3 separate regions of the Homo sapiens genome follow, and all the other regions are linked to region 3. The links come from fine-mapping of genetic effects on gene expression. A gene starts in region 3. Each other region holds a variant in brackets. All regions are shown on one strand. Distances are from middle to middle. Region 1 overlaps RHOXF1-AS1 (RHOXF1 antisense RNA 1). Region 2 overlaps RHOXF1-AS1 (RHOXF1 antisense RNA 1). Region 3 holds the start of RHOXF1-AS1 (RHOXF1 antisense RNA 1).

Evidence for each region. PIP is the estimated chance that this variant, and not a neighbour inherited with it, causes the effect.
Region 1: its variant is fine-mapped to the expression of RHOXF1-AS1 in pancreas (GTEx, PIP 0.95).
Region 2: its variant is fine-mapped to the expression of RHOXF1-AS1 in whole blood (TOPMed, PIP above 0.99).

The regions. Positions count from the first base shown.
Region 1 is chrX:120,122,291-120,130,475 of GRCh38, reverse strand. The region is part of intron 2 of RHOXF1-AS1 (RHOXF1 antisense RNA 1); the gene reads right to left. Among named protein-coding and RNA genes, the nearest start is that of LINC01402, 6.7 kb to the right of the region's middle. The variant G/A (reference allele first, on the strand shown) is at 3,494.
Region 2 is chrX:120,095,577-120,103,761 of GRCh38, reverse strand. All of the region lies in intron 1 of RHOXF1-AS1 (RHOXF1 antisense RNA 1), which reads right to left. Among named protein-coding and RNA genes, the nearest start is that of RHOXF1, 16 kb to the left of the region's middle. The variant G/T (reference allele first, on the strand shown) is at 4,099.
Region 3 is chrX:120,031,931-120,040,115 of GRCh38, reverse strand. It overlaps RHOXF1-AS1 (RHOXF1 antisense RNA 1), which reads right to left and starts at 3,880. Exons shown (of 5, transcript NR_131238.1): 1 at 3,584-3,880.

The DNA of each region.
Region 1 (8,185 bases), 90 kb before region 3:
AATTGCTACAAGCCAAAATTAGAATAGCTCAATGCATAAAATGTATGCTCTTATGTTACTTGAAAGTGATTTTAAAGGTTAATGGGTGCCTGCTTACCTCCATTCCCATCGGGCCTAGAATGTTTAATTGCCTATAAATCTTTTGGCTCTAATCCCTTGGCCATAGGGGTCGTCCCTTGGCCATAGGGGTCCTACCAAGGGACATAATGGACACACACCACCCTGGCAACAACACGGGACAAAATTAAAGTTTAGCCATCAATGCTGCCTCTGGTATGTCTTAACCAAAAGCAGTGGGGAATATAAACTAAAAAAAATAAAATCCTAAACCCCAACCAACTAAATGGACTCCCTTCTTGCCCGAAGGGAATCCCAAAGAAACCTAAAAGAAAAAGTTTCAGGCCATGACAGACAGCAGGGCATCAGGCATGCCTCACTACACCATCCCCACCCTTTCTGGAATTTAGGCAAAACTGACAAGCATTAACATTAAAATGGAGATCATAAGACTGATAAGACAGATTCTTTGTAACAATAAGATACCAAACTATAAACAAGACCACTGACCATAGGCTAATTCTGGCTAGTTTACAAAAAGTACACATTTGCATGCCTTTATGTCCTAAAAAGACCTTTTGATGTCTAGGGCCTAATTATAATACATTATATGTTAAGTCCCCACACAAAAATAAACATGAGTCATATGTTACATACATATTTGTTCCATACACATGTGTCAAGACTGCCTTCATAAACATTTATGACCTCTCCTGTATGTCTTAACCAAAAGATGTGGGAAATATAAACTAAAAAAAAACTGTTAAATTTGTGTATTGAGTCCACCTGTCATCATATCCCCACAAGAACTCTGGACACAATTGATAGTGGGGACTGTGCATGATAATTAAGTAATTAAGACTGAATGCTAAATATTATCTCAGATAATTCAGAAAATGTCTTGTTAGCCCTGCAAGACATGAACCAACAAATCAAAACTATGTCTGACCCCACATTGTCGCTAGCTCAGTGGTTAGCAACCTGGTTCAGGTCAGGACCGTCCTGGTGGCAAAAGCTGCTTATAACTTTGGCCCTGGTTGCAGGGATAGGCATATTTCTTTGCTGTGGATTTTACTGCTGTTGCAACTTCTGTATGGAAATGCAAGACAGGCTTTCCCAAGAGACTTTCCTGGCCTCGCACCATAATGCTCCAGCAAACATTGTCTGTGAACCCCAGTACTTGTGAATATTTCCAACTCCAATGGATCAGTTCCATTCTGGTACCCTATAACTCCTCCCACTTTCAGCAGTAAGTAGCCAGAATAAAAACAATGCCCAAATCCCATGAAAATGGAATGGAATTTGACAGTGGGGAGTCGTAACCAAGTACCTCATTTTCTTAAAAAGAATTATTTTTACCTTTTTTTCTTTTTCCCTCACCTCTTACTTTACTCTTTAGGAATACAATTATAAACTTTACCTTCTTTCCAACAGACACTCCCTGTGAAGCAGGAGAATAGGGTCTGGAGGCAGGGAACCTAAAGCTGTTTCACACTAACTTCCTAGAACTAAATTGAAAGGAAAGCCCTAACTTTCCACACCTAAGTAACAAAAGGACCAGAGGCTACTCCCTTTGCAAACCCCCACCTTTCCTTTGCTGCAGATGGGAAATTGAAAGTACCTCTGATTGGCTGATTTTGGCAACCAATCAGACCTTTATATAGGAGTGTAACTTTATAACTTTAGTTCAGCTCAATCTGATTGATTGCCAGCCAGGTCACCGTTTGCATAGAAGTACAACTTTTTGACTTCACTTTAGCCTCTGATTGGTTGCTTTCTGCAACCACCAGATGTTTGCATAGGAATGTGACCTTTGTAAGTTCACTTCAGCCTCTGATTGGTTGCTTTCTGCAACCACCAGATGTTTGCATAGGAATGTGACCTTTGTAAGTTCACTTCAGCCTCTGATTGGTTGCTTTCCGCAACCATTCAGACTGATTGCAGGCCACCACTTCATTTACGTGAGGTAAGCACCAAGTGGCCAATGGGAAACCTCTAGGGGGTATTTGGACCCAAGAAGATTCTGTATCTGGGCCCTTGAGCCGCTGCTCAGGCCTGCTGCCACCCTGTGGAGTGTACTTTCGATTTCAGTAAATCTCTGCTTTTGTTGCTTCACTCTTTACTTGCTTTTTTTGTGCATTTTGTCCAATTCTTTGTTCAAAACGCCAAGAACCTGGACACCCTCCACCAGTAACACCTAGACTGAAAGCTTATCTAAATATATGTTTGCTTAGAAGTATCAGGGACCAAATCTCAAAACAAAACAGGCACTCTCTGGAATTCCCCACCAGGAGATTGTCTCAAGACAACAATTAATTCACAATCCAATTCTATCCATGATGGTGCAGACCAGACCATCAGATGGCATCACTCAATATAAGTCATCCAAGCGAGTCACGTAGACCCCGCACCTCCTTGCCCTTCACACCAACTTTCCCTTTTTAAGCCCTTGCTTTCTTCCCTGAAAGTTAAATCAGTTCCCTTAAGGCAGGAGCCTGTTCTGTTTCCCCACTGCTAAGCTCTGGAATAAAAGTCACTTTCTTTTTACCACCCTCGTCCTTGTTATTCAATTTTGCAAGCAATGAGCAGCTTAGCCTGCGTTTGGTTACAGTAAGAGGAGGAAGGAGGAGAGAAACCAGTGGGAAGAGAGAAGTCTTAGAGACACCAGTTTGGGGAGATGATAAGTTTCCCAAAAAGACCAGTGAAGTTCCAAATTATCCTCAGCAAAACCATGTCAACAAGAAGGAGTTGGACAGTGTAGGTGGAGCATATAGTCAGTAGGAATTCAAGAATGGTGTTTCAGTTGACTCAGAAGTTCCTGTGGGAAAAACAGGATCAAATAGAACAGAGAGGCCTCACAAAGTAACAAGGAAAAAATTTCCAGCCTGGGCAACATAGTGAGACTCTGTCTCTACAAAAAAAAAAAAAAAAAAAAAGATTAAAATTAGCCGGGCACAGTGGCGTGTGCCTGTACTCCCAGCTACTCAGGGGTGCTGAGGTGGGAGGATTGCTTGAGCCTGGGAGGTTGAGGCTGCAGTGAGCCATGATCACACCACTGCGCTCCAGCCTGGGCAACAAAGGAAGACCCTGTCTCAAAAAAAAAATTTTCCAGCCCAAAGAATCAATGAATAATTCCCACTCAAAATAGAAAGCCAGAAAGAAAAGCTTTCAGCCCAGGGAGCCAGAGAATAATCCCCACTCAAGACAGAGATCCAGGAAGGAAACCATCCAGCCTAGGAGATACCTTTCAAAACAAGCCTGGAACTCTAACCTGCTTCAGAGAGTATACTCAGAATCTTAAGAATCAAATCAATCCTTACCAGCTTTAACAGAAGTTTGCCTGGAACAATGGTTCAAAAGTCTGACTTAGCAGTGGATCCCAAATCAATCAGTCAGGAGTGAAGGAAAGGGCTTAAAAGGTGCACATTTGAGGTCC[G/A]CAGTGATAGGTCCAGGAGTCCAATGATGAATCTGATCCTATAAAAGTCACAGCATCATTACTGTTCAATTTTTTTAAATGACACTTGTTAAAGATGGTGAGAAAGACTGTGTTCAAGGGGGAAATATCAAGATAAGTATAGGAATCACTGCAATGGCATCTTGCAATGGGGGAGATAGATTGAGATCAGCTAAAATACAATGTGGGCAAGTGGGAATTTAGAGCCAAGGAACAAGGTGGGAGTCAATGGATGGAAATTAACTAAGAGGAAACATCAGGCATAATGGAAGATTTGGGCCAAACCGACCTAACATTATTTTTGCTGAAGGCACCAGGGCGATCAAACATCACCTGGGAGATGGTGGAGGATGAGGAACCAGATTAGATATTGAGAGTGCTTGGATATGGGGGATGACTAAATAGACTTAGCAGGACTTAGCAATTTCCTTGCTGAAATCGGACAATGCAGAGACAAACTCAGAAATCCAAAACTCCAGGCCTAGTTGAAAAAGAGCTCAAGGGAACCTGAGTAAAATTCGGTCAATAAGAGAATCTTTGTCAGCACTAGAATTCTGGGATGAATAAAACAGAGGTCCTTCCTTCCAGGAGCTCAGTGTAGTGGGGAATAAAAACATGCTCTCTAATCCCAGCTACTTGGGAGGCTGAGGTGAGAAGATCGCTTGAGGCCAGGAGTTCCAGACCAGCTTGGGCAAGGTAGCGAGACTTCATCACTAAAAAATACAATTTTTATTACATAATATATATATTATATACAATATATATTAATATATTAACATATATAATATATAACATATATATTATATATAATTTTCTTTAATGATAACACAAGACAAGGAAATTCCAGTGAGTATGAGGTGTTTGGCCATGTGTGCTCCAGCAGAAGGTGAAAGGGAGAAGAAGGAGACCAGGGCAACTTATGAAGGGACGTGATGAAGAGTAAGAATGTAAGGGAGTAGGTAGGATGCATAAGGGATCCATCAGCTAGATGGATTGAAAGGGTGAAAACACAAGGCAGGCAGAGAGGAAATGTGAATAGACAGAAGTAAGATGTCAGGGACTCTGCAGGCAGGTGAGCTCACTCACTTCTGCCACAGGCTCTCCTCCCTCTCCTTATTGAGGAGGCTAGGCCACAGCTTGTCATACCCATAGGGGTGTGGGTAGCTGCCATAATTGGCGGACCAGAAGACAGAAGCTAAGGGGATGCCATGTGGGGCAGAGGGCCACCCTAGAAAGCACGACCACTAGTGTGAGCGGTAGGACTGGTTTCAAGAGCCTTGGCAGAGGCCACCCAGCTGATGGCTGAGGCCATTCCAGTCCCTAGGCCATGGGCAAGAGTGAAAGTGAAAGCAGCAGTCCTGCAGGGAGTGGGCAGATTTGCTGGGCTTGGGGCTTTTCCAACAACTTTGACATTTCCTCCAGAGCCCAAGGACTCCCAGATACCTCACTGCTGCTGTGGGATAAGGGGATAAAGAAAAAAGCCAGTAGGGCAACTGGGTCCCTGTCTCCTTCCAGTTCCACATGACATTCAAGTCTAAGCTAAACAGGAGACCTTGTCCTTTCTCTGCCTCATTCCGAAACGACTGAAGGAAGTGTTACCAAAACACCAAGGCTACCGTCTAAGTCCTGCTGCTCACTGCACAGAAAGCCAATCACAGAGACAGTGAGTATTGCCAAGGAAAAAGGCTATAATCGGATGCTGCAGCTGAGATGGAAGCTCAGTCTCAAATCCATCCCCCGAACCCACTAAAACTACGGGTTTATATAGCAGGGAAGAAATTTAACAATGTATAAGAAAACAGGAACTAGGGAGGGGCAAGGAAGCAATCAAGATGAAAGAGGGGTCTAGCATCTCACTGTCTGGATGTAGTGATCTGGTGAGTTTCAGTTCTTTGATCCCTTTTTTTTGAGAGGCCTGAAGGTTGCTTCCTGAGGAAGGAACTCAGATAAAACAAATGTAAGGTTCAAACTTTAACACCAGAAGGGTCCATTTCTATTTTTATCAAAATGAACAGTCCTTGGCAGGGTTCCCCAACCCCTGGGCCACAGAGCAGTACTGGTCTGTTGCCTGTTAGTAAATGGGCTGCACAGCAGGAGGTGAGTGGTAGGTGAACGAGCACTACCGCCTGAGCTCTGCCTCCTGTTGGATCAGCGGTGGCGTTTTATTGTCATAGGAGCGCGAACCCTACTGTAAACTGCACATGCAAGGGATCTAGGTTGCGTGCTCCTTATGAGAATCTAACTAATGCCTGACGATCTGAGGTGGAACAGTTTCATCCCAAAACCATTGCCCCGCCCACCAAGTCCATGGAAAAATTGTCTTCCACGAAACCAGTCCCTGGTGCTGATAAGGCTGGGGACCACTGGTCTATAGAACTGTTGGGTCGGTTTCAGAAGGACCACAGGTCACAAGACGTATTTCACTGAGCAGCTGTTTCAACAATACAGTCAGTTCAGTTTGTGTTTCGTGTGTGTTTACATCAGGTATTATATAGAGCACACTGTCACATATATCTGTATATAGATAATATATATATGAGTGTATATAACATATGCATGTGTATAATTATAGGGATGGCTCAAATCAAAGTACCTAATGTTTTCCTTAATCTCCTAAATTAAAAGAAAAATATAAATGGGATGAATGGATGAGAAAAAAAGGACAAAGTATTTAAAGCATTTCCTATGAAAATGACATGTTTATATGAGAGTTGCAATAAAAATACGGAGTGCTGAGTCAAACTACTGATAAACAACAAATATTTTTAGATAACTGTGTCTCATGCAATATTTGGGACATACTTTATACAAAAATATTTGTTGCTTATTTGAAATTCAAATACAAGTGAGTGTCCTGCAGTTTACCTGACAATGCAGAAGGGGAACATCACACACTGGGGCCTGTTGTGGGGTGGGGGGAGGGGGGAGGGATAGCATTAGGAGGTATACCTAAGTTAAATGACGAGTTAATGGGTGCAGCACACCAACATGGCACACGTATACATATGTAACAAACCTGCACATTGTGCACATGTACCCTAAAACTTAAAGTATAATAAAAAAAAGATTATTTCCTATACTTCAAAATCAACAAGATTTGATTGCATTTAAATTTTTCTGTCCATTTGTTCTTCTATGTAATACTTTAAAAATAATTGGCATAAAAATTCAATCAATTCATAAAAGTCCAAAGCAAAAAAAAACAAATCTACTGACATCTCTTGAGGAAGAAATGATCAGGATTGACATTAATGAACCCTCTCACAGAGACCACTACACACACACACAAAAAGAAGGATGGGTGAATGGATGCAGAGAGAATTTAATAAGACTGAAATGATGCCATACATGCTTTTAAAAAATAAAAAGTATTAAATTTTAAATTTTACTTCAATATAAGAGAAGAAAAAGAAAAAAAGGGAGATTGAAAGAACTGCTGAACTTCAGGAAGTTCTACTTGATCACAAATTGATACTAGTTTTATAAAATTCCCTTTTTCTTCTCAAGGGTGCCCTGCCCTTCCAGCCTGGTGCCTTGCCCCTTGAGGCATAATATTTCTGAAAACTGTCCAAAGGACCTGCATATTGTTAAGAACAGCTGCAAAATGTACCAGAGAGAAAGATCAGGTGAGCTGGTGCCTAATTCATTACTGTGAGGTCTCCTCTCTTGGACACTTGTGAAGTCTTGGTCATCAGTGCTCTGAACCTTAAGATCAGAACCAAGTAAAGAGAATGAAAGATAAAGTTAGAGAAACTTCAGGTAGGGATGGAAGGCAGAGAGCAAAGCATATATGGGCACGGGACTTACAATAAGGAACAGCAGGACAGCACAATGGCATTCTTGGATTGTTGGCTTTAGAAACGCTGTCAATTATATTCTACTGCTCCAGAGAATGAAAATTGCTTAAAATTGGCTTCTCAGGCAGAGTTTACAAACTAGCAGCTCCAGCCTGAGTCTGTTCTGCAGACCTGATTTAGATGGCCAGCATACTTTTCAATAAAACATATTTCAGTTAGTTACCAACATTTAAAGAACTGAAGGTTTCATATCAACATTATAATTTGTGGCCAATCTTGAAAAACTGAAAAATCTGGCAGTCCTGGCCCAACATTGCCAGCCAGCAACACTAAGCTGGAGCTGAATACTGGCTGCCCCTTTGGAAGAGACATATTCTTTCCCAGTTTGCCACAGTCCCTACCCTGCTTGCTTCTCTCTTTTATGTTACCTGTCTGGCCTTGTCAACATTTGAATTTACAACTCTGATTATTACAATTTTTCTATTATGCAAACTGTCAGACATATACAAAAGCAGAGAGAATGGTAAAGATGAACCCTATTTGTACCCATTATCCAGTTTCAACAATTATCATAGACAACCTTGTTTCATGAATACCCTAACCAATTCTCAAACACACTTGGATCTCCCCCTGGATTTTTGTGATGCACATCTAGACGTCACATCATTTCATCAGTAAATATTTCAGTGTGTATCTCCAAAAGAACCAAATGTGTGACTCCTAACCAGGCTTATTCTGTTATGTCACATATTCCATGGGTTATACTGTGGTGAGAGGATATATTACAGAGTAATAGTAACAAATATTTCTGAGGTCTTACTCTGTGACTAGGTATTGTGCTAGGTACTTACATATATTGTCATTTATTCCTCTTCTC
Region 2 (8,185 bases), 64 kb before region 3:
AAAAATCTATCATAGGATTGTATAAGGGGACCAATTTTATCAATATAGGTAGTTTTAAATTTAGTCTCTTACTATTTAACTGGATCTCTGAGGTCTGAGGCAGAGCCCACACTGAATTCTGAATCTCCAAAAGAGAAATTTTCATGAGCCTAGAACATGTGATGCTTTTATAATGCACTTTCTTTGTGAAGACATTTCTCTTAGTGTCTAAACTATACTCTTTCTGATTTTAAACACCCAAGAATAGCCACTGTTGTAATAACTACTTTAGTCAAAACAAAATCAGGTAACAATACAAAAGCAAGCTATTTAAGATTTGAGAAGAACTTGTCTGTTTATACTCTTAAGGTTCCATACGGAAAAACAGAGGTTTCTCCCCAAAATGGAGTCTGGCACCTTCTCTGTTTTCTTTAAGGAATCTCAGGCTGTTAAAAACCATTTTAGGTCCCTCATGCAGCAGAGAGGGGCAAAAGGAAGGAGAGACAGGAAGAAAAATGGAGAAAACAGAATTCAGTCAACTGAGAAAAACAAAACTTTTTCTACAAAAAAAATGAAGTTCTAGGAAAAAAAACCATAAAGGCCTTTTAAGTGGACACACACACACACATACACACACACACACACACACACACACACACACCCAAAATCTTCAATATTAGCTTTTTAATTAAGCAGATTCATAGCCATTGAGCTCTTCCAAAAAAAAAAATCCTTTTAAGCCGGGTGTGGTGCCTCACACCTGTAATCCCAGCACTGGGAGGCCAAGGTGGGTGGGTCACTTGAGGTCAGGAGTTTGAGACCAGCCTGGCCAACATGGTGAAACCCTGTCTCTACTAAAAATACAAAAATTAGCCTGGTGTGGTGGCACATGCCTGTAATCCCAGCTACTCAGGAGGCTAAGGCAGGAGAATTGCATGAACCCAGCAGGCAGGTTGCAGTAAGCCGAGAATGTGCCACTGTACTCCAGCCTGGGCAACAGAGCAAGACTCCATCTCAAAGAAAAATCCTTTTAAATCTCATTGCCATATTTTAACTGAGACAAATTGCTCATACTTCAACAGTAACATAAATATGAAACCTGAAAGGACTTGATTTAGGAACCAAACCCAGGGTGTTGTGGTGGGAAAAAAGGGCAGAACCATAGCTACTGAACTGCACCATGGGACAACAGCTGTTGCTCTTTCAGTTTGGCTTGGCTAGCAAAAAGTGGCCTTGTTATGTAAGTAAAACCCCTCAGTAGTTAAAATCTTTCCTCTTTTTCCCCTTTGCTGGTCATTTTTTCTTTTTCCTTTTTTTCCCCAGCTGTGGGAATTTAGCTAATTCAGTGGCATTGTTCCCCATAATTTGGAAATTTCCTTCAGATTTGACTAAGTCTGATAGAGTTTATCAAATCCAATGGAAAAAAGACCAAAAGAAGAACAAAAATAGAAACAAACAAAAATAGTTAAGCAAAACAAACAAAAAATTGCACAACTTATACAATTACTGAGCACTCTAAAGGTAAGTAGAAATTAAGAGCAGCTGGTTGTTAATTTTAACTTTAGTCATTAAGGAGAATTTCCAAGACAAAATCCCAATTCAGTTACTTACCTAGGAATGGAGCCCAGTCTGAAGATGGCTCTCTACCATCCTAGAAGCAGGAAACAACTTCAACTCACCTTCCCTGTTGGAAGTGAGCTCACACTCCAAAAAGGAGTTGCCTGCTCTCCATCAACATGAAGCAGGACAATTCACCTTCCTTGTGTAAAACTCCAGAAAAGGAGTTGTACAACAAAATAAACCTTAGATCTCAGCCAAATTTGAGGAGATCATGGATTCTCTGAAGGGGGAGCTCCCAGGACTTCACAAATTGTCCTATTGGTTTGAACAATAAAGATAGCTCAAACTGGTACCAAGCACCAATAGGAGATTTGTCAAAGGTTAGGGGAACCTCCACTCAGAAGCCATTCCTGGTTACCAACTTGTGAACCAAAAGTATCTGAGACAGGTTCCAATCAATTTAGAAAGTTTATTTTACCAAAGTTAAGGATGCACCCATGACACAGTCTCAGAAGGTCCTAATGACATGAAATGTAGCAGGACGATCCACAGACAAAACTCCTCAGGCACCAGGTTAAAGACGGAAGGAGCTTTATTTGGCCAGCAGTGTCGGCAGACTCATGTCTCAAAAACCGAACTCCCTGAGTGAGCAATTCCTGTCCCTTTTAAGGGCTTACAACTCTAAGGGGGTCCACATGAGAGGGTCGTGTTCGATTGAGCAAGCAGGGGATATGTGACTGGGGGCTGCATGCACCAGTAATCAGAACAGAACAGAACAGGACAGGGATTTTCACAATGTTTTTCCATACAATGTCTGGAATCTATAGACAACATAACCAATTAGGTCAGGGGTCGATCTTTAACTACCAGGCCTGGAATGCAGTGCTGGGCTGTCTGACTACTGATTTCACTTCTGTCTTTTAACTCCTACTTTTTCTTTGAGGCAGAAATTGGGCATATGACAATATGAGGGGTGGTCTCCTCCCTTATTCCCCCCTTTGAGAACCTCACTCATTAGTGGGAGTTCTCACTTTCATCCTCACTACCCATGTCTTCTTGCAAGACAGATCAATAGTGATTTATATAGTACACCTGTGCTGAAGCATTTTGGTGAACTAAGGTAGCGGTGAAGCTTTTTATTACTTGTAGGAGTACAGGTAGCAAACAAGGGAGTAGTAAGCAGGTTCTTATTGCTATTATAATTTTTATTATAAGAGTTTTAAATGCTCTTAGCCCTAGAAACCATTTTCCAAACATGGCTCCAGGATTAAGTCCATGCCATACTTGCATGGGCACATGTGCCAGTTTTGTCATATCTTTTTGTCTTCAACTACTTGCCCTTGATCATTTATGTGCAAACAGCAATTGGTTAGGTAAAATTTTCCACAGACTCCTCCTTCAGCTGCTAGCAAGTAGTCTAGGACTAGTCTATTTTGATAGATAGCATTTCTCATCTGGGTTTTTGCTGGGCTAAAACAGTTAAAGCTCTGCCAGTTTTATTAGTGATTACTTCTCAGACAGCTTATAACCGTATGATTCGGTTGATAGTATAAATGGGGGTTGGGTATCCCCATGAGCCATCTTGTGCCTAAGTGGTAGGCCCATAGTACTGTATGATTCTTTCAGGGGGCCACTTGTCATCTTTCCAGTCGCCTATAGCTATGCTTCTCTTTTCTTGGGAAGCATAGACTGGGAAGCCTAGAAGTTCGCCTGTTTTTATGGGCAGTAGGAAAAAGGATGGGTTATAGCACACATCAGGCTGGTCACTTCCTGGTCTACATACCTTGTATAGAATAGCATTATACAAACAAGTTCCTTTTAGAGTCCCAGTACACTTATAATAACCATAAAATAATAGGACTGTAGCAATCTTTTGTCCTACCTCAGTGACTTGATGTATATACTGGGAACAGTCCTCAGTCTGAGGAAGGTCAGTTGAAGTTCTTACTGTACAAGTCCAAATTTTAAGGGAAATGAGTCCTGCGATGAGTTTCCTCATGCTTTGACCATGCAAGGACCAGTCAGCTTCCAGGTGTGACTGGGGCAGGGCTTGTCATCTTCTTCAGAGTCACTTTGCAGGGGTTGGCGAAGCTGCTCCCATGCACGTACAGCTCCCAGTCTACTGATGTTTAAGGATGGTCTTGGAGGTTGGGCCTGCTAGAATAAACTGAGTCCAACACCTCTACACAGTTAAGTTTAACTGGGCTCTCTGATACCAGGAGCAAGGTGGCGGGGTTTAGGGTGTTGCAAACTTCAATGGTTATGTGGGGATTTTTCACAGAGCAAGCTTTGGTATCTAGTTAGTCTAGTATTTGTTAGCTAATGACGTCCTTTGGTATTTATTAAAGTCACCACAGCATGGGGGGCCTTTATGTTTAGGTTTTGCCCAAGAGTTAGCTTATCCACTTCTTGTGCTAGTAGGGCTGTTCCTGCCAAGGCCCTCAAACATGGGGGCCAACCCTTAGAAACCCCATCTAGTTATTTAGAGAGGTAGGCCACTGGCCTCAGCCAGGGCCCCACAGTCTGGGTTAAATCTCTAACTGCCATTCAGTGTAAAAG[G/T]TTTGGTCAGGTCAGGTAGCCCCAGGGCTGCAGCCAACATGAGGTTTTTCTTTTAACTCCTGAAAAGCTAGTTGCTGTTGGTTGTAATAGGTGTAGTTTATTTACTTTACATTTTTATTAACTGTCACCTACCAAAATATTGACTTAAATCCTGCAGCTATTTTATTTTGGGCTTTAAATTGATCTGGTATTTCCCGTGGGACTCCAATTGCATCTAAATAGACATGAGAGTCGAAAGACCCATAAGAGGCTTCTCTCGCTTTATGATGTCTTATTTTTCCTCCCTCTGGTTGATGAAATGCCAGGGTGAAAGGGATAGCCAATTGGACTAAAGCACAAATGCCACTCCAGTTATTCGGCAGAGTGCCCAGTAAAGGTCCACCACAATACCACACACATCCGCTCGGGGATGAACAAGGGCTGACTGATTGATAAGCTCTTGAAAATTCTTAAGCTCACTGCATCCCTTCAGGTCTCCAAGGAATGCTAAGTTTTCTCCCTGTTGTGAGAGACATGAAGTGAACTTAGTGTTGGGAGATGGAAGCTGGATGGCCCTCAGGGGCTGACTCGCAGGGTGCCAGACTTCAGGACATAGCGGAGAGAGCTTGGCACGACTTATTACTCCAGGCTGTAGAATCCTGAAAAAGAGCTATCATGCAGCCCACACCTGGTCAACTGGATGACTACCTTAGTGAAAAGGGGACAATCTGGGCCTCTGGCCTGCCATGTGCACAAGCATAACGATTGCTTTTGTTTAATGTGCGGAAAGAATATTTGATCCATTCCAACCAGGCATTTGCATCTTGGTATACTGCCTTAATTGCCAAAGTTTGTTTTAAGTCTTTAACTTCTATGATTCTTTAGTAAAATGAATGTATGGTTTTAGGAAATTACAAAAACTGGTTGGGGTAGTTCATTCTTGCTTTTTAGTGGTCCACAGAACTTTGGACCAACTACGGCATAAAAGCTCCACATCGGGGGGCAAGACTCCTGGTTGACACTGGGGTCTTTATTGAAATCTCCCTGGATTAGATGGTCCTAATTTACTAATGCCCAGTCTGAGGAGAGTCAGGAGGGACAGAGGTACTTTTTTGAAGTAGAGAGCTGTTTTTGGCTTAGCAAGTCCCTGCAGGGTATAACAAAGCAAGCATTAAATGCAATAGTTTGAGGCGAAATTGACTTGGTTATGTTAATAACTACATGGTCAGTAATAGAGCGAGGAAAGAAGAAAGTAATAGAATAGATGAAAGAATTAAATTTTTCTTAGCTTGAGTTTGGTAGGGTTTTCCCCTGGGACTATGGCCCATGACTCTGGAGGGGGTGGTGCTTTGACTCGGGTATGATGAGTCCATCCCTTTTCTGCTGTAAGAACAGCAGTCTTGGTGGTTAGCAGCACAAGGAAGGGTCCTTCCTAGGCTGGCTCGAGTTTCCCTTCTTTTTACCCTTTGATGAGAACATGATCCTCAGGCTAGTGCTGGTTTACCAGAAATTCTAGGGGTGGTACATGTGCTAAAAGACTTTTAGTTTTAAGGGAAAGGAAAGTGGAAGATAAACCAAGTATGCAATTTTTAAGAAATTGACCTTTTGTTTTAAATGTGGGATCATCAGCAGTCCTTGGTGCCTTTCTACTGAAAAATTTCCTTTAGCACCTACTTTTATTAGTTTTTAGACCAAAGAAAGCCAAACACCATTTTATATTTAATAATGCTTCCTGTATGATAATACAGGAATAATAATGCTTCTTGTCTTTCATGCATGGATGTGAATTGACAGTTCAATTGCATTTAAAATATGGCACAATGAGCCATTGGCTGTGCTGAGAGATCTGGGTTGTTGACCAAATTCTGAGGCTTCCTTGTTCTCAATCCCTCTCACAACCTGTTTCCCTAGGAACTTGGTGGTCAGCAGAGCACTTGAATTCTCCTTCCAAACCATGAGCTTATATTTTTGGCTGTTCCTTCTCTCTTTTGCAGACACACGTGCATGTAGGCATGCATGCACACACACAGGATCTTTAGCTAGAAAGCACCCTGGAATGGTCACATCACTCCATTTCACCCTGTGCTTTTTGGTCATCAGAATACCCCCACCCCCACAAGCTGCAACCACGTTTCTACCTGTTAGAAGACACAACTGTCAAGTTGTTCCCAGTGAGATAAAACAAGAAACAATCGTCTATTTATGAGAGCATTTTCCAATTTAAAATTCCAATTGACTAATCCAGGAGTTTGGGAAATTTTCCATATGCACAGTGGCCTAATATCAAACTCCTTCCTATAAAAATAGGAACAATTCATCATCATAAAGCTTGTCAAGCCAGTTGTTAGTGGGACCCACAAAGCCAGTTCCTCAGTTGGGTATCAAATCCGTACAAATCTGTATTAACTAAAAATAATAACTAGTTTATTCACGAGAAAAATTAATTTTAAAAGTACATAATTCAGGTCCTTCCAAAAACACATTAGTGATTAAAAGCTTTTTTTAGTGTTGAAATCTCTTAAAAAGTTATTGATATAATTGGGAAGGGCCTTCATGTAGAGTCGAATGAACACAGACCATAATACATTCCTGCACAACCCCTACTCCCTATTGGCTCCCCTCCGGAGTCCTGCATGGGTGCTCTAAGTGGCAGTCATGTGCTAGTCCATGCTGCAGGGTCACAGATTGGGAAGACCGGTAATGAATGGAAGCTGGATGTCCCTGAAGCTATAACATAGGCCAAGTGCAGTAGCTCACACCTGTAATCCCAGCACTTTGGGAGGCTGAGGTGTGCAGATCACCTGAGATCAGGAGTTGGAGACTAGCCTGGCCAACATGGTGAAACCCTGTCTCCACTAAATATATGCCTGTAATCCCAGCTACTGGGGAGTCTGAGGCACGAGAATCACTAGAACCCGGGAGGTAGAGGTTGCAGTGAGCCAAGATCACACCACTACACTCCAGCCTGGGTGACAGAGTGAGACTCCATCTTAAAAAAAAAAAAAAAAAAGGAAAAAAAAAAAAGCTGTAACAGAAAAACAACTTAATTATTGCAAAGAAGAGATCAGTATAGTGACATGTGACTCCAATCCCACTGCAGTGTCTAGGGTAGGCATGTGTTACCGTGTGCTCTTTCAGTTTAGCCATCTGTAGGCAGCTTGTGTTTATCAACTCAATTAGACCCCCTGCCTTATCGCAAGGGCAGAGGGCTTTCTGTATCGCAGGTTCTTGCCTTGGTGTACCAGAAAAATCAGATCACATGTGGGCTTGGAGGATGGGTGCAAGGTTTTTTATTGAGTGGTGGTAGCTCTCAGCGAGGTGGATGGAGAGGCCAGAAGGGGGATGGAGTGGGAAGGTGATTTTCCCCTGGAGTCAGGCCACCCAGCGGCCAGGCTCTCCTCTGACCACCACAGCCAAAGTCAGTGTTGTTCAGCTGGTCGGCCTGCTGGCATCTGCTGGTGTCTGCTGGTGTCTGCCGGTGTGCTCTTCCACCAGTGTGTTCCTCTCGAGGGCCAGCCACTTCTGTCTGCCCATGGCCACTTGTGTCTCTGCCAATATGGTCTCGGGGTTTTTATAGGCACAGGATGGGGGCGTGGTGGGCCAGGGTGGTCTTGGGAAATGCAACATTTGGGCATGAAAACAGAAATGCCTGTCCTCACTTTGGTCCATGGGCACAGGACCGGGGTGGAGCCCTTGCTAGGGACCCCGCCTTCTCCTCCCAGCATTTCCCTGCCTCCCTCCCCTGTCATTGGTGTGCTCTGGCCTCCCCTCACTTCCCATTCAAGAAACACAGGCTGCTCTCCGGAAATGGCAAGAACATCGTGCGCCATTTGGAGGTGGGAGAGTTGGGAATAGGAGAGGTGGGGTTGTTCTCTGAGGACCTAAAGTCCCACCAATCAGGAGTCTGGCAAATGAACCACAATTGCAAAATTGGCTTTTATGTGAAAGTATACATTCTGGTGCCACAAAAGTCGGGCAATTAAGATTTCCATTGAAAAGTTTCTTACTAGAAATTTCCCCAAATCACATAACTTCTCTGACTCAATTCAGCTCTTGGACCTAACTCAGTGAACGATTACTTTCAGTATCCAATAGTGTGGTCCAGTTT
Region 3 (8,185 bases):
ATGATGGGGCCAGAAGTCGTTGGAGACCCTGTAAACTGACCTGTACCCCAAAACTATTCCTAGATCTAAGCAGTTCCCTGGGGCTGACGGACAACATGCCATGCAGCATGTTACTGAGACTCATGCTTCTAATAAAAATAATGTAGAGCTCTTTAGAATCACTTTGTCCAGTGATCTCACTAGATAGGGTCAATGCCCAGCAGCCAAGCCAGAAGGAAGACTTGCTTAGGGGAAGAAACCACAGAGACTTGGCTAGTTTGCTTCCATTACGAAAAAGGTAATCTTGTTAAATAAACTTCATAAAGGAAAGTGGCTCCTTGAGGGGTACATCACTACAGACCCCCTCCTCCATAGTGCCTTGATAGTGGCCACTTTCTCTGAGGAGGAGGAGCAAGGTGGGGAGATGAGAGTGTATGTATACCAACGACCATCTCTTTCCTCAGCTGGGTACTATTTGGTCTCTGACAGATTTGGTCCACACATAATGAGTACCTAGTCACTGAAAAACATGTCTCAACCACCTTCGCAGAGACTATGGAGGTCCTGCAGCCCTCCTGGTGGTCTCTTGGGTCTACTACGAGGGAGTGGGAACGGTAGATGAGAAGATTAACCAGACTTAGATTTACGGGTTTGTTCATGCTGCTCCTGCTTGTTGTCAAGCCCAATTAAGCCACCTCCTGAGGTCAAGTCCATCAATCTGCAGTGTGATCCAGATCTTAACTCAGAAATTCTCAGGCACAGAAGAAATGGCTTCCGATAAAATAGCAAAATTTGACCCCTCCCCTCCAAAAAGGGAGCATAAAAATAGTACTTGAGTGCCCTCTTCTGGACTGTCTGGGCAAGGGCCTTCCCAAAGAGATCTCTGAGTCTGATTACTCAATAATGGAACCACGAAAGCAGATTGATGGGCTCCCCACTAAAAAATTCAGGGCCAAGTACCAGGCCATGGGGATTTGATAAGTGGTCCCGCTAGAGTCTGCACAGTGATGGCCTTCCACCTCTCCTGGTGGATTTGGAGACAAATCAGAGATCCTGAGCAACTTTTGCTCTGACACTCAGCTTTCAAATATAAACAAGATTAGGGGTTACAAACAAAAATCCAAAGATTTTAGGGGTTATAAACAAGATCCTTCTGTACTCAGGGGACCCAGAGGCCCTATGCCAAGGTTAGAGTTCAACTGAACAGTGGAGAGGAATTGCACTTCTTAGGCCTTTTAGATACCAGTACACAGGTGACTGTGATCCCCACAAACCCTTGCATCAAGATGAGGAGAAAACAGATCGTGTTCTCTGACTTTGGGCTCCTACTAACCTCCGTTGTCATGGCCCCCACTACTGAATGAAATATTGGCAGTGATGTGTTTTCCATGTGCAGCCCCACTTGCCTTTGCCTCCAAGCCCTGACAGGAATTGCAATAGTTATGGCCATCTTAGTGAGAAATATAGAAGACCATGGACCCATCTGATGACCAACACCTAGTACTGTTGTTTCCCAAAAAACAATGTCAGCTGCCTAGGGGAGAAAAAGAATAATTGCCATCATTGCTGAGCTTAAGGAAGCCAAAATGTTTCATGAGACTGTTTCTCCATTCAATAGCCCCATCTGGCCTGTGCACAAGACCTTGGTTTCTTGGAGACTTACCACTGATTTTAGGCAGCTCAATGCGTAATACCACCTTTGGCACCAGCAGTACCTGACATTGTGACTATTACAGAGGCCCAAAACAGAGAGAACTTGGTATGCAGCAATTGATATTGCAAAGGCATATCAAATTGTAGTCCCCAGTGTTGGAGATGGGGCCTGGTGAGAGGCGATTAGATCATAGGGGCAGATTTCCCCTCTAGTTTTGTTCTAATGATAGTGAGTAATCATGACATCTGGCTGTTTAAAAGTGTAGCATCGGCTGGGCATGCCCTCAGCCTCCCAAGTGTCTGGGATTACAGGCACTTGCCACCATGCCCCGCTAATTTTTGTATTTTTAGTAGAGATGGGGTTTTACCATGTTGGCCAGGTTGGTCTTGAACTCCTGACCTCGTGATCTGCCCACCTTGGCCTCCCAAAGTGCTGGGATTACAGGCATGAGCCACTGTGCCCAGCCTAGTCTCTAGCTTTTAACTGGATCTCAGCTCTGGGCAGAGCCCACGCTGAATCCTGGATCTCCAAAAGATAGAATTATCATGATTCTAGACCATGTGATGCATTTGCACTGCACTTTGTTACAAAGACTTTCCTCTAAGTGTCTAAAGTATACCTTTTCTTATCTTAAACACCCGAAGAGTAGCCTCTGTTGTAATAACTTAGTCCAAAAATCAGGTAACACAGTACAAAAGCAAGCAGTTTAAGATCTGAGAGGAACTTGTCTGTTTAGACTCTTGGGGTTCCATAAGGAAAAACAGATGTTTCTCCTCAAAAAGGACTCTAGTGCCTTCTCTGTTTTATTTAAGGAATTACAGGCTGTTAGAAACTATTTTGGGTCCCTCATGCAGCAGAGGGGAACAAGAGAAAGGAGAGATAGGCAGAAGTAAATGGAGAAAACAGAATTCATTTGACTGACTGAGAAGGAAAAAACCTTTTTCTCAAAAAACAAGGTACTAGGAGAGAAAAAAAAAACAGGCCAGGCACGGTGGCTTACGCCTGTAATCCCAGCATTTTGGGAGGCTGAGGAAGGCAGATTACCTGAGGTTGTCGGGAGTTTGAGACCAGCCTGACCAACATGGAGAAATCCCATCTCTACTAAAAATACAAAATTAACTGGGTGTGGTGTCGTATGCCTGTAATCCCAGCTATTTGGGAGGCCGAGGCAGGAGAATTGCTTGAACCCGGGAGGTAGAGGTTGCAGTGAGCCAAGATCGCACCATTGCACTCCAGCCTGGGCAACAAGAGTGAAACTCCTTCTCAAACAAACAAAACAAAACAAAAAACCATAAAGGCCTTTTAAATATACACACACACACACACATCGTGGATATTAGCTTTTAATTAAACTGACTTTTAGCCACTAAGCTCTTAAAAAATTCTTCTAAATCTCACTACCCTATTTTAGCTGGAACAAATTGCTGATATTTCAAAAATAACACAAATATCAAACCAGAAAGAACTTGATTTAGGAACCAAACCCAGGCTGTTGTGGTGGAAAAAAGGGCAAAACCTTAGCTACAGAACTGCAGTGTGGAGCACAGTTTGGCTTGGCTAGCAAAAGGTGGCCTTGTTATGTAAATAAAGCCCCTCAGGTAGTCAAAATCTTTCTTTTTTCCTGTTGATGGCTGTTTATCCTTTTCCCTTTTCCCCCCCAGCTGCAGGAATTTACCCAATGCAGAGGCGTTGTTCCTCACCATTTGTAACTTTCCTTCACATTTGATATAGTTGGGTAGAGTTAGTCAAATCCAATGGGAAAAAGACCAAAACAACAAAACAAACAAATAAATGAAAAAACAGTTTGGCAAAACAAACAAATGATCATACTATGTATACAATTCCTGAGCACTCTAATGGTAAGGAGAAATTAAGAGCTGCTGGTTGTTAATCTTAACTTTAGGTCATTAAGGAGAATTTTCAAGATAAAACCCCAATTCAGCTACTTACCTAGGAATGGAGTCCAGGCTCAACACTGCTCTCTACCAGCCTATAAGCAGGAAAAAAACTCCAACTCGCCTTCCCTGTTGGAATTGAGCTGAAACTCCAGAAAGGAGTTGCCTGCCCTCCATCATCATGGAAGCAGGAAAACTCACCTTCCTTGTTGAAAGTGAGTAAAACTCCAGAAAAGGAGTTGTACAGCAAAAAAAAACCTTAGATATCGACCAAATTTGGGGAGATCAGGGTGAGGGAAGAGACGGACCCTCTCATATTGTTTTATATTGTTTTATACTCAGTACCTGTTTTAAGAAAAAAACAAGGAAGTGAAACCAAGGGCAGGCAGCCAGGCACCAGACCCAAAACCAGAACTGAAACCAGGCCTGGGCCTGCCTGGCCTAAACCTAGTAGTTAAAAATCAACTCATGACTTAGCAACCGATGTTATCCATAGATTCCAGACATTGTATGGAAGAACGCTGTGAAACTCCCTGCTCTGTTCTGTTTCACTCTGACTACCGGTGCATGAAGCCCCTGTCACATACCCCCTAGATTGCTCAATCAATCACGACCCTTTCATGTGAAATCTTTAGTGTTATGAGCCCTTAAAAAGGACAGAAACTGTGCACTCGAGGAGCTCGGATTTTAAGACAGTAGCTTGCCGATGCTCCCAGCTGAATAAAGCCCTTCCTTCTACAACTCAGTGTCTGAAAGATTTTGTCTGCAGCTCGTCCTGCTACAAGGGATTGTCTGGAGGGGGGAAGTTCCCAGGCCTCAGCAAATCTGCCTATTGATTTGAGCAATAAAGATATCTCAAGCTGGTACCAAGCAGTAATAGAAGATTTGTCAAAGGTCAGGGGCACCTCCACTCAGAATCCCTTGGTGGTTACCAATTTGTAAACCAAAAAGTATCTGAGCTAGGTCTCAATTAACTTGGAAATTTTATTTTACCAAGGTTAAGAACATGCATCTGGAAGGCAGGTCTATGCCTTTTTCCAAAGAAGATTTTGTGGACTTCAGTATTTAAAGGCAAAAGGGCAGATATTGGGGGAAAAGGAAAAAAAATTAAAGGTGTGGGTAGATAACAGACAAATGGTTGCATTATTTTGAGTGTTTGATAAACCTTTCACTGAATACACAGTTTACATGTGAGAGAAGGGTAGAGGAATAGTTACTTATGCCTTTGTCAGCTCAGTGAATCTGCATTTTTACATTAGGAAAGCAATCAGATATGCATCTGTCTCAGATGAACAGAAGGATGACTTTGAGTTCTGTTCTTTGTCTAGAACCTGTGAAGATAAGCTATCAATTTACATTGTCAGGGTAAAATTCAACAGAACCATTTTAAGGTAAACATCTTGGGGCTCAAAAGGAATGTCCCAGTGGACAAATTGTGAGACATGTATGTAGCTTTTTTTTTTGTTTGTAGCTATCTTATTTAAGAATAAAATGGGAGGTAGGTTTGCCTGATGCAGTTCCCAGCTTGACTTTTCCCTTTGGCTTAATGATTTTGGAGTCCTGAGATTTATTTTCCTTTTACAAGACATTACCATTCCAAAAGAATGAATATGGGAGGCATAAAGTGGTTTCTTGTCCCAAGTAAGTTCAAAATTTAGCATGGCAGGGCCAGGTGTGGTGGCTCACGCCTATAATCCCAGCACTTTGTGATGCTGAGGTGAGTGGATCACTTGAGGTCAGGAGTTCGAGACCAGCCTGGGTAACATGGTGAAACCCCCCTCCTCGTCTCTACTAAAATACAAAAATTAGAGGGGCATTGTGGTGAGTTCCTGTCATCCCAGCTACTCAGGAAGCTGAGGCAGGAGAATTGCTTGAACCTGGCAGGTGGAGGTTGCAGTGAGCTGAGATTGTACCACTGCACTCCAGCCTGCGTGACAGAATGAGATTTCATCTCAAAAAAGTAAATAAATAAATAATTAGCATAGCTAATTCCATTAGATTTCAAGGCCTAGGAACAATCCTCTTTAGCTCAATGTTCTGCCATCTGGTCTTGCAGTGATCCACCAGCTTCTGTGCCACCCTCATAATTCACTCTTCCTTTTTCTTGAAGGCTAATGTGTCTTTGCAGTCTAGTAGCCCTGTCAGCTCATATCCTGCCTATAGATTTCCAGAAGTCCAACAGTCTTCCTTCATTTCATCCCATATCTATCTCCTTTACTCCAAGATGCCAGTATTTCTGTTGATATAACATTCTCAAAATCCTTATCAGTCTCGTGTGTGTTATGGGAGTCCATGTCATTAGACAAGATCCTTCCTGGATAAACCCATCTCTATTCCTGCCTTCAGCTGATATGGTTGATTGGATCCATGAATCACATATATAATCTCTTTAGCAAGATTGTCCAGCCATACTGTTGGCCTTCTCTTCAGAGTATGCTTTTGCGACAATAAATTTTCTAATTTTGGCATCCTTTGGAATCACGATAGGCTGAGAACCTCCAAAATCAAGTGCTAGTTACTTTTTGCCTAATAGTTCTTTCCTCAATTTATATCTTTCACATTGAAATGGGAGAGTTCACTGACCCCCCTTGCAGGGCCTGCAACAGGGGTGTGGCTCGTCTGTTTGGCCACTGCATGCTCAAACCCCTTATGGGAGGGGGAGCACGCATTTGAGCTAGGGCAAGCACTTTTGGGCTCTGGGCCTACAGCAATATCCAGGGATGTTACAATGCTCCTTTAGCCCTGCCATCCAGGGACAGCTTAAGTGTTAAACAGCTCAGTGCCCTCTTGGTACTGGGTTCCTGTCCAGCATCCAGGAAGAATCAGGTCACACAGACAAATTGAAGGATGGTAAATGTGGCGTATTTTATTGCTGGATGGAGGTGGCTCTCTGCAGGATGGATGGGGAGCTGGAAAGGGAATGGAGTGGGAAGATAATCTTCCCCTGGAGTTCAGTCGTCCCTTGGCTGATCTCCTCTCCTACCGTCCCCAGCCTAACTCCTCTTGATGTTCAGAAGCTCCTTCTCTTCTCTCCTTCTCTGCCACACCACTCTTCTGTTCCTCTGCTCTTCTGCTTGTCTGCTCATCTGCTTGTGGATCCTGGGGTTTGGAGTTTATACAGGTACAGGATACAGGGGCGTGGCAGGCCAAAAGGCAGCATTTGGGCACAAAAACAGGAACGCTTGTTCCCATTTAGGGCCACGGGTTTCCAGACTTGAGGGTGGGGCCTTTGCTGGGAAACCACCCTCTTCTACCCAGTATTTCCCTGTCTCCTGTCTGTATCAATATTACATTTTACTATAAGCAGCAAGGAGAAACCAGGTTATGAAGATAAGCTATCAATTTACATTGTCAGGGTAAAATTCAACAGAACCATTTTAGGGTAAAGATCTTGGGGTTCACAAAGAAAAATCTTAAGGATTTTGCCTGTAAATTTCTGCCAAATATCCAAGTTCATCACTTTCAAGTTCTGCTTTCCATGTGACTGAAGAACATAGTTCAGCCAAGTTTTCTGTCACTGTATAACAAGCATTGCCTTTCCTCCCATTTTCAGTAACATTTTCTTCATTTCTTTCCAAGACCTCTATACAATCAACTTTAATATTCCTATTTCTAACAACAGTCTCTTCAGGGCAATTTAGGTTTTTTTCTATCACGCTTCTCAAAAATTTTTCTAGTCTCTATCCATGGCCTAATTCCAAAGCCAATTCCACATTTTAGGTCTTTAGTACAGCAACATCCCACTTCTAGTTTCAAAATCTGTATTAGTCAGGGTTCTTTCAGAAAAAAAAAAAAAAAAAAACCAACAGGGTATATATGTATTTGATTTGTTTCAAGGAATTGCCTTAGATGATTGTGGGGTCCAGCTAGGTAAGTCCAAAATCTGTAGGGAACTTGGGAAGCCTAGAAACTCTCAGGTGGAAACTGAGGCTGCAGTCAGCAGGCAGAATTTCTTCTTCCTCTGGGCATATCAGTTTTGCTCTTAAGGCATTTCAACTGATTGGATGAGGCCCACCAAGATTATCCAAGACAGTCTCCTTTACTTAAAGCAACTGATTATAGATGTTAACCACATCTATATAATACCCTCACAGCAGCATCTAGATTAGTGTTTGAATAACTGGGTACCATCACCTAGCCAAGTTAACAAATTAAACTAACCATATCTATTCAACTAATTAAATATAGTAATACAACCAAATAAATGACATTTTTTTCCATGCAGTATTTCAAAATACTTAAGAGTAGGCAACATATTGGCCCAAGGTCAGTGGCTCTGAGGGTAGCTGGACCACATCAGTCAGAACTGCTATAAAATAAAATAAAATAAAATAAAATAAAAAATAAAAAAACCTTCTGGCTAACTGCACTTGCAAAAAATCAAGAGAAATCCAAGATACACAGCACCACTACAGTCTTCTAGCTTCAAATAGTTGTAATATGATTCACTCCTAGCAATAGAGTAAAAAGGTAAAGCTCAAGTTACAAGTTAATTGATATTTTCCATAGCATATACCATAAAGAAAGGTGAAAAATTCAGACCCTAATGCTGATTCTGACCAACTCTCATTTTCACCGGTTATTTTGCAGTCCCTCACTATTCAGCTGTGAAATTCATCTAAGGACATAAACTTAGTGTGTAATTTCTCCTCCGAAG